Regions from separate parts of the Homo sapiens genome. Here region 1 is linked to region 2. Evidence: fine-mapped expression QTL. A gene starts in region 2. The other region holds a variant in brackets. All regions are shown on one strand. Distances are between the middles of the regions.

Region 1 (4,517 bases), 41 kb before region 2:
GAATAATCAAGTCTGGAAAGAGGTCTGAGCTGCCCATCTGTATTCTGCAGTTATCAGCAGATAGGTAGTATTTAAAGCCTGGATAGGCTGGGCATGGTGGCTTATGCCTGTAATCCCAATACCTTGGGAGGCTGAGGCAGGAGGATCACTTGAACCCAGAAGTTCAAGACCAGCCTGGGCAATATGGTGAGACCTTGTCTCTACAAAAAAAATTTAAAAATTAGCGTGGTGGTGTATTCTAGCAATCCTAGGAGGCTCAGGCAGGAGGATCACTTGAGCCCAGGAGGTTGAGGCTACAGTGAGCTGTGATTGCACCACTACACTCCAGCCTGGGCAACAGAGGGAGACCCTGTCTCAAAAAAACAAAAATTAACTCAGAATGAATTAAAGACCTAAATGTAAGAATTAAAACTATAAAACTGGAGCTATGATCACACCACTGCACACCAGCCTGAGCAACAGAGCAAGACCCTGTCAAAAAAAGAGAATGGACAAAGGATCTGAATAGACATTTCTGCAAAGTTACACAAATGGCCAGGGAGCACGTGAAAAGATTCACAACATTATTAGCCATCAGGGAAATGCAAATTAAAACCACAAGGAGATGTCACTTCATATACACTAGGATGGCTATAATCAAAAAGATAAACAATAACAAGTGTTGGTGAGAATGTGGAGAAATTTAAACCCCCATGTACTGCAGATAGGAAGGAAAAGTAATATAGCCAATATGGAAAATAGTCTGGCAGTTCCGTAAAAGTTTCAACAGTTACCATAGGACCCAGCAATTCCAATCGTATGTATATACCCAAGAGAAATCAAAACATATTCACACGGCCGGGCGCAGTGGCTCATGTCTGTAATCCCAGCGTTTTGGGAGGCCGAGGCAGGTGGATCATGAGGTCAGGAGTTCGAGACCAGCCTCACCAACGTGGTGAAATTGCGTCTGTACTAAAAATACAAAAATTAGCCAGGTGTGGTGGTGCGGGCCTGTAATCCCAGCTACTCAGGAGGCTGAGGCAGGAGAATCGCTTGAACCCAGGAGGCGGAGGTTGCAGTGAGCCGAGATCACACCATTGCACTTCAGCCTGGGCGACAGAGCGAGACTCCATCTCAAAACAAAACAAAACAAAAAAAAAATTTCACACAAAAACTTATACGTGAATGTTCACAGCGGCATTATTCAAAATAGCCAAAAAGTGGAAACAAACCAAATGCCCATCAACTAATGAATGGATAAACAAAATGTGGTATATCCATACAATGGAATATTAATCAGCTATGATAGAAAGGAATGTAGTTGTCGGGCGTGGTGGCTCACGCCTGTAATCCCAGCACTTTGGGAGGCCAAGGCAGGCAGATCACATGGTCAGGGGTTCGAGACCAGCCTAGCCAACACGGTGAAACCTCGTCTCTACTAAAAAAATACAAAAATTAGCTGGGAATGGTGGCGTGCACCTGTAATTCTAGCTACTCGAGAGGCTGAGGCAGGAGAATTGCTTGAACCCGGGAGGCGGAGGCTGCAGTGAGCTGAGATCAAGCCACTGCACTTTAGGCTGGGCGACACAGCAAGACTCCAACTCAAAAAAAAAAAAAAAAGGAATGTAGTATAGAGACAGAAAGTAGATTTGTGGTAGCCTAGGGATGGGGAAATGACAGGGAAGGAGTCGTGACTGCTAATGAGCCCAGGGTTTCTTTTAGAGGTGATAATTGCACAGTTCTGAATATACCAGAAACCACTGAATAATAGTCGTTGGGTGAATTATATGTGCAGTTAAAAAAAATCAAACCTAGCCAGGTGGGCGTGGTGGCACA[T/C]GCCTGTAGTAATCCCCTGTAGTAATCTCGGGAGGCTGACAGGAGAATTGCTTGAACCCTGGAGGCAGAGGTTGCAGTGAGCTGAGATTGCCCCACTGCATTCCAGCCTGGGCGACAGAGTGAGACTCCGTCTCAAAAAAAAAAAAAAAAAAAAATCAAAACTAGAGCCACTCTATCTATAGTGCTCAATTTATTTTTCAAACAGCTGCTAAATTATCCAGGCATAACTACTTATTAGGTTGTTTGAACTGTACCTGGTAAATGGAACTGTTAGATTTTTCTATTGGTCCAGGGAGCGCCATAAAGAAATTCTGAAACACTAAGGGCTCTGAGAACCAAGAAAACTTGGGAATCACCGTAAGGCATAAACCTTTCTCATTTCTTACCTTCCAACTTATACCTCCCTTCTTATCTCTATCTGAACCCATTCTTATTCTTCTAGGTTAAAAGAAGAAGTACCTCTTCTCTTCTTTTCTTTCTTTTTTCTTAAGATGGAGTGTCGCTATATGGCTCACGCTGGAATGCAGTGGCATGATCTCAGCTCCCTGTAACCTCCGCCTCCTGGGTTCAAGCAATTCACTGTCTCAGCTTCCTGAGTAGCTGGTACTACAGGCATGCACCATCACACCCGGCTAATTTTTTTTTTTTTTTTTTTTTTCCGAGACGGAGTTTTGCTCTTACTGCCCAGGCTAGAGTGCAATGGTGCGATCTTGGCTTACTGCAACCTCTGCCTCCTGGGTTCAAGCAATCTCCTGCCTCAGCCTCCCGAGTAGCTGGGATTACAGGCGCCCGCCACCATGCCCAGCTAATTTTTTGTGTTTTCAGTAGAGATGGGGTTTCATCATGTTGGCCAGGCTGGTCTCGAACCCCTGACCTCAGGTGATCCACCCACCTCGGCCTCCCAAAGTTCTGGGATTACAGGCGTGAGCCACTGCGCCCATCCTAATTTTTGTATTTTGGGTAGAGACGGGGTTTCACCATGTTGGTCAGGCTGGTCTTGAATTGCTGACCTCAAGTGATCCACCCACCTCGGCCTCCCAAAGTGCTGGCATTACAAGTGTGAGCCACCGTGCCCAGCCACCTCTTCTTTTCAAGATCAATTTCTCCACCATGTTCTTGTAACAAATTCCTGGTCTCCTCTAGGACACCCTGCTCCAGCAGCAAGTTACTGTTTCTCCTGGGCAGACTCCCACACTGCACTGCCTCCTCCCATGTAGTATGAGCCTGCTGAGCAAAGAAGAGAGCAGCACAGAAGAACCAATGTTCATTTCTGCTTGAGAGTTTGGCAGTGTGTTGGTAATTGTTAATAGAATTGCTTCTTTCTCCAATTAAAAACAAAACATGGCTGGTGTGGTGGCTCACACCTATAATCCCAGCACTTTGGGAGGCCGAGGCAAGAGGATAGCTAGAGCCCAAGAGGTCACAACCAACCTGGCAACATAGCAAGGCCCTGTCTCTATAAAAATAAGGTTAGCCAGGCGTGGCAACACACACTTGTAGTCCCAGCTACTCGGGAGGCTGAGTTGGGAGGATCGCTTGAGCCCAGAAAGTTGAGGCTGCAGTGAGCTGTGTTCATAACACTGCATTCCAGCCTGGGCCACAGAACAAGACCTTGACTCAAAAAATGTATGTGTATATATATAATAAAACAAAACACCTCTGCCTATTGCTTACTGTCTCCAGTCCCAGCCTTGAAAGAGTCACAGCTGTCTCCTACCCCCTCAAATAAATATAACTCCATGTGTGCTATTTTAATTATCTTAGACTCTAGGGATAAGACTGAAATGTGGGTTCCAAACCATAGTAATAAAGGGAAAATACAGGAAGAAAATAAGAGAACTGTCATAAGGCTGGGACATTCTGCCTCAGTCACAGAACTAATTGAATTATTACAGTATGTTAGAACTGAATTCAAATTAGGACATCACTTTTTGTAGATAGAACTCATGCTAGCTTTGTTTTTCATTGTTAAGCTCCTCCAGTAAGAAGTAAAACAACAGCTTATCCAAGCAGCTTAATGAGCATTGTGGGTTTTATCTTTGCAAAGATTAGAGCAAGGACGTTCAAGCTTAATAGCCTCAATAACAGTTCCTAACTTTTTTCTATCTGAGATCCTGAAACAGGAAAGATGAGATTTTTTAAAGAGCTAGTATGCTATATGTAAAGAAAAAATTAACTTGTTACTTATATATAATTATAAGTACTTATTGGGAGGAGGCTATGAAGAGGTGATTTAAAAAAAAAAAAAAAGTACTTCTCACTCTCTGAAGAGCCTCATCAGCATTATTGGCCTTTTGAGAAGCAGCCAGTAAAACAGTGATTTTTAGCCATAGATTGCTGTAAAGTAGTAGCTGGGGCCTGTGGCAGGAAGTAAGATTCATTTGTTAATTTAAAAATTCATTTTAGGAGTTACTGATTGGGAAAACAAAAACACAGTTTATGATATTAAAAGAATCTAGTCGGCCGGGCGCAGTGGCTCACGCCTGTAGTCCCAGGACTTTGGGAGGCCTAGGCGGGCAGATCACGAGGTCAGGAGATCGAGACCATTCTGGCTAACACCGTGAAACCCCATCTCTACTAAAAGTACAAAAACAAAGTTAGCCGGGCGTGGTGGCGGGCGCCTGTAGTCTCAGCTACTCTTGAGGCTGAGGCAAGAGAATGGCGTGAACCCGGGAGGCGGAGCTTGCAGTGAGTCGTGGTTG
Region 2 (4,000 bases):
GAAACCATTACAGAGTTCGCACCTGGTGGGTAACTGTGGAATGTCACCTGGAGACAGGACAAAAATGTCCTGTTTATTAACCGAGGGGGGAGAGCTGGAAAGACAAGAAGTTGTGGAAGGAAGAAGGGACATTAAAGATGGGGCCTGACGGGAAACAGTGGTTCCCAGTGATGCCCAGACCCAGGGAGGGGCTTTGGAGCAGGTTCACTGGAGAAATGGGGGTAAATGAAGGTCCCCAAAACAAAGGACAAAGAATGTCAGAGCTGGCCGGGCGCCGTGGCTCACGCCTGTAATCCCAGCACTTTGGGAGGCCGAGGCGGGCGGATCACCTGAGGTCACGGGTTCGAGACCAGCCTGGCCAACATGGTGAAACCCCGTCTCTACTAAAAATACAAAAATTAGCCGGGCGTAGTGGTGGGTGCCTGTAATCCCAGCTACTCGGGAGGCTAAGGCAGGAGAATCGCTTGAACCCAGGAGGTAGAGGTTGCAGTGAGCAGGTTGCAGTGAGCAGAGATTGTGCCATTGCCCTCGAGCCTGGGGGACCAAGAGTGAGACTTTGTCTAAAAAAAAAAAAAAAAGAAAAGAAAAAAAAGAACGTCAGAGTTAGGGCCCTGGATGGCTCCTCTATATCTCAAACCCCCTGGGCAATGGCAGAAACTGCGGTAGGAAAAGTTCCTACAAGTGAGGAGAGCGGGGACAGTGGCTGGTGGTGACAGGAAGGAAACAGGCAAAGGCGGCAGTCGCCAGGGAAGACCTTGCGCCCCTTCAGCGACCCGCTCACCGCTCTTCCTGCTTCCGGATTCCTCCCCGCCAGTCCAGGCTGCAGCTGTAGGAAAGCCTGGGCCGGGGGCGCGCCCCCAGGCTGCGCAACAGCTACCACAGGACCAGGCACACACCCGGTCACCACCGCTGGGGCCCGCGCCACGTGGCTGCTAGTTTCCTTCCACTTCCCCCGCTTTGTAATGCCAGGCAAGACGCTTTATGTTGATTTCACACGCTCTTAAGGGGGTCCCAGGCCGCAGTCTGAAAACCCCTGCTCCTGAGCAAGTTGCGTTTCCCTAAAGACCAGGAAGCGGAGGTAGTTCCATCGTTTCTTTACACGGCAAGGAGCTTTCAGATTATTCCGAGGGCCTGGCTATGAGTCTAGGCAGGAGGCGGCCCAATCATGGGAGGCGCCAGAGACAAAGAGGAAGAGGACATGGACTAGGCAGGGAAGCCAGGTCGAAGGAACCCCAATGCCTCCAAGGTTCCCACAGCTGGCCTTGGCCAAAATATCCGAAAATTCCCATGTAGAAACTGGCTTTTCCAGCCTGGGCAACATGGTGAAACCCCGACTCTACAAATAAATACAAAAACTAGACAGGTGTGGTGTCCGCGCCTGTGGTCCTCTGCCCACGCTCGTCCCAGCTACTGGGAAAGCTGAGGCGGGAGGATCACCTGAGCCCGGGAGGGTCGAGGCTGCAGTGAGCCGAGATTCCGCCGCGGCACCCCAGCCTGGGCGACAAAGCGAGAGCCTGTCCAAAAAAAAAAAAAAGAAAAAAAAAAAAAAAAAAACCTTTTAGGGCAAGTTAATCACCAAAGTGTTAGATACTTAATTTGGAGACCGCAAATCGGTCGGCAAAACGATGGGCTTTTCAAAATCATGCCGGGTGTAGCTGGGTAAGCATGAATTTGTTCACCAAGTCCCCGATTCCCAAGCTAAGGGACCCTTAAGTATGAAGCACATGGCTTTCGGGGAACCCAAAAGTAGGGAGCGCTCCCGAGCCAGCGGTGGGTCTGGAGAATCCCCGAGCGCGCAGGCCGCGGGACAGCCTCCCCAGTGCGCAGCAGCCTGAGGCTAACAGCCCCCAGAGGGCAGAGCCCCGCGATCCCGGCGCCGCTTGCGGCTGGATTCTTTGGCAGCGGGCGCGGCGCCAGTCAGGACGACGGCTCCGGAAGTCTCCCGGGCGCGTGAGACCCGGGCCGCTCTCCGTCCACGCACGACCCTCCCTCCAGGCGCGCCTCCCACCCCGGCCCCGCGTTCCGCTCAGCCCGGGTGACCAACTACACCTCACTTCAAAGGCCCCCACGCCCGGGCGTGCCCTCCGCCCGCCCGCGGCAGGTGGGGGTGCAGGGCGGAGGGCGCGGGCGGCCCCAGAAGGCGCCCGGACCTTCCCGAGAATTCCGGGCCGCGCAGGCGCATTGAGGCCGGCGCGGGGGCGTGCGAGAGGCGCGCGGCGGCGATTGAGGGAAGGTTGCCCGGGCCGGGCCACGAGCAGGGCCTGCGCGCGCCCGCAGGAAGGCGCGGGGGCGGGGTGCCGCGGCAACGGCGCATGCGTAGGCGCGCGGCCGCGGCGGCGGCTGGGGAGGGTTCTTCCGGAAGGTTCGGGAGGCTTCTGGAAAAAGCGCCGCGCGCTGGGCGGGCCCGTCGCTATATAAGGCAGGCGCGGGGGTGGCGCGTCAGTTGCTTCAGCGTCCCGGTGTGGCTGTGCCGTTGGTCCTGTGCGGTCACTTAGCCAAGGTGACGGGTGGTTGTGGGGGCCTGTGGAGGTGGACTGGGGACCGGGACTGGGGGCGGCTGGCGCGGGGCGGAGGCTGTGGGGGCCGGACCAGATCCCTGAAGCAGCCAGGGCCGCGCTCCCGGGCGGCCGCGCTTTCTATTCCGGAGGCCTCGGGACCGCTGCGGTTTCCGCACCCCGCTTCAGGAATGGGCCGGGCGGCCGCGGGCTCCCCGAGGCTCTGCAGCAGCGCCAGAGCTGGCGCCGCACGCGAACAGAGCGGCCCCGCCGCGGGGGTCCCCCGCCCGGCCCCGCTGGGGGCGCAGGCGGAGGAGGCCGCCGTGGCGGAGCCGCAGCCCGCGCGGGAGGGCACCCGGGGTGTTCGTTGGGGACCGCGGCGGGGGACTGGGCCCGGGCCTGCGGCGGCCTCCCGGAAGCGCGCACACGCTCGTGGTAGTTGCCGCGCTCCGAAATGAGGTCATCCTTTGTCAGCCGCCCTTCTATTTTCGGTTTACTTAAACTTCGCAAATCTCCAATTCGGCTTTAAAAATATTTGGAGAACGCGATGGAATTTCGTGTTGCCTCTGTAGACGTCCTGCAAGGTTTTAAACCGGCGCGGTGTCGTTCCAGATGCCTGAGGAAACCCAGACCCAAGACCAACCGATGGAGGAGGAGGAGGTTGAGACGTTCGCCTTTCAGGCAGAAATTGCCCAGTTGATGTCATTGATCATCAATACTTTCTACTCGAACAAAGAGATCTTTCTGAGAGAGCTCATTTCAAATTCATCAGATGTAAGTCACTTATTAACCCAGAATCGGATTTTGGTTTCAGTGTGAACTTCTTGGGGGTGCTGTATGCTTAAATTAATATTTTTTGTTAACAGGCATTGGACAAAATCCGGTATGAAAGCTTGACAGATCCCAGTAAATTAGACTCTGGGAAAGAGCTGCATATTAACCTTATACCGAACAAACAAGATCGAACTCTCACTATTGTGGATACTGGAATTGGAATGACCAAGGCTGACTTGATCAATAACCTTGGTACTATCGCCAAGTCTGGGACCAAAGCGTTCATGGAAGCTTTGCAGGCTGGTGCAGATATCTCTATGATTGGCCAGTTCGGTGTTGGTTTTTATTCTGCTTATTTGGTTGCTGAGAAAGTAACTGTGATCACCAAACATAACGATGATGAGCAGTACGCTTGGGAGTCCTCAGCAGGGGGATCATTCACAGTGAGGACAGACACAGGTAGGCACCTGAACATTCACTGGTTAAGTGAGCGGTGGAAGGGTGGGGTGCTGCAACCCTTGGACCCCTGGGGATGCGGTGAAGCTTACAGAATTTGTGTTTGCCCAACGATCAGGAACAAGCTAGAGCACTTAATTAGTGTAATGGCATGACTTGGTGGGCGGTTCTTTTGGGCGAGGCACCTTGCCCAAAAGGTTCTGCTGTGGTGGCCTTTGCATCTGTAGTAACGGCAAACCTTGCTTTATAGACACGTTATAAGGGTGTTAGGCATG

Direction of the effects. Alleles are on the strand shown, and positions count from the first base shown. SD is a standard deviation of normalised expression in the study named.
For the expression in fibroblasts of the gene that starts at base 2,442 in region 2, T is the low allele of the variant in region 1 and C is the other (small effect, 0.10 SD a copy in GTEx).

What was found. PIP is the estimated chance that this variant, and not a neighbour inherited with it, causes the effect.
Region 1: its variant is the best candidate, but not a certain one, in a credible set for the expression of HSP90AA1 in fibroblasts (GTEx, PIP 0.54).

The regions. Positions count from the first base shown.
Region 1 is chr14:102,126,587-102,131,103 of GRCh38, reverse strand. It overlaps a transcript of HSP90AA1 not described here. Among named protein-coding and RNA genes, the nearest start is that of WDR20, 11 kb to the left of the region's middle. The variant T/C (reference allele first, on the strand shown) is at 1,816.
Region 2 is chr14:102,085,486-102,089,485 of GRCh38, reverse strand. HSP90AA1 (heat shock protein 90 alpha family class A member 1) reads left to right here and starts at 2,442. Exons shown (of 11, transcript NM_005348.4): 1 at 2,442-2,500; 2 at 3,108-3,269; 3 at 3,362-3,728. The coding sequence starts at 3,108. RefSeq lists silencers at 1,885-1,934, 1,995-2,524, 2,565-2,854.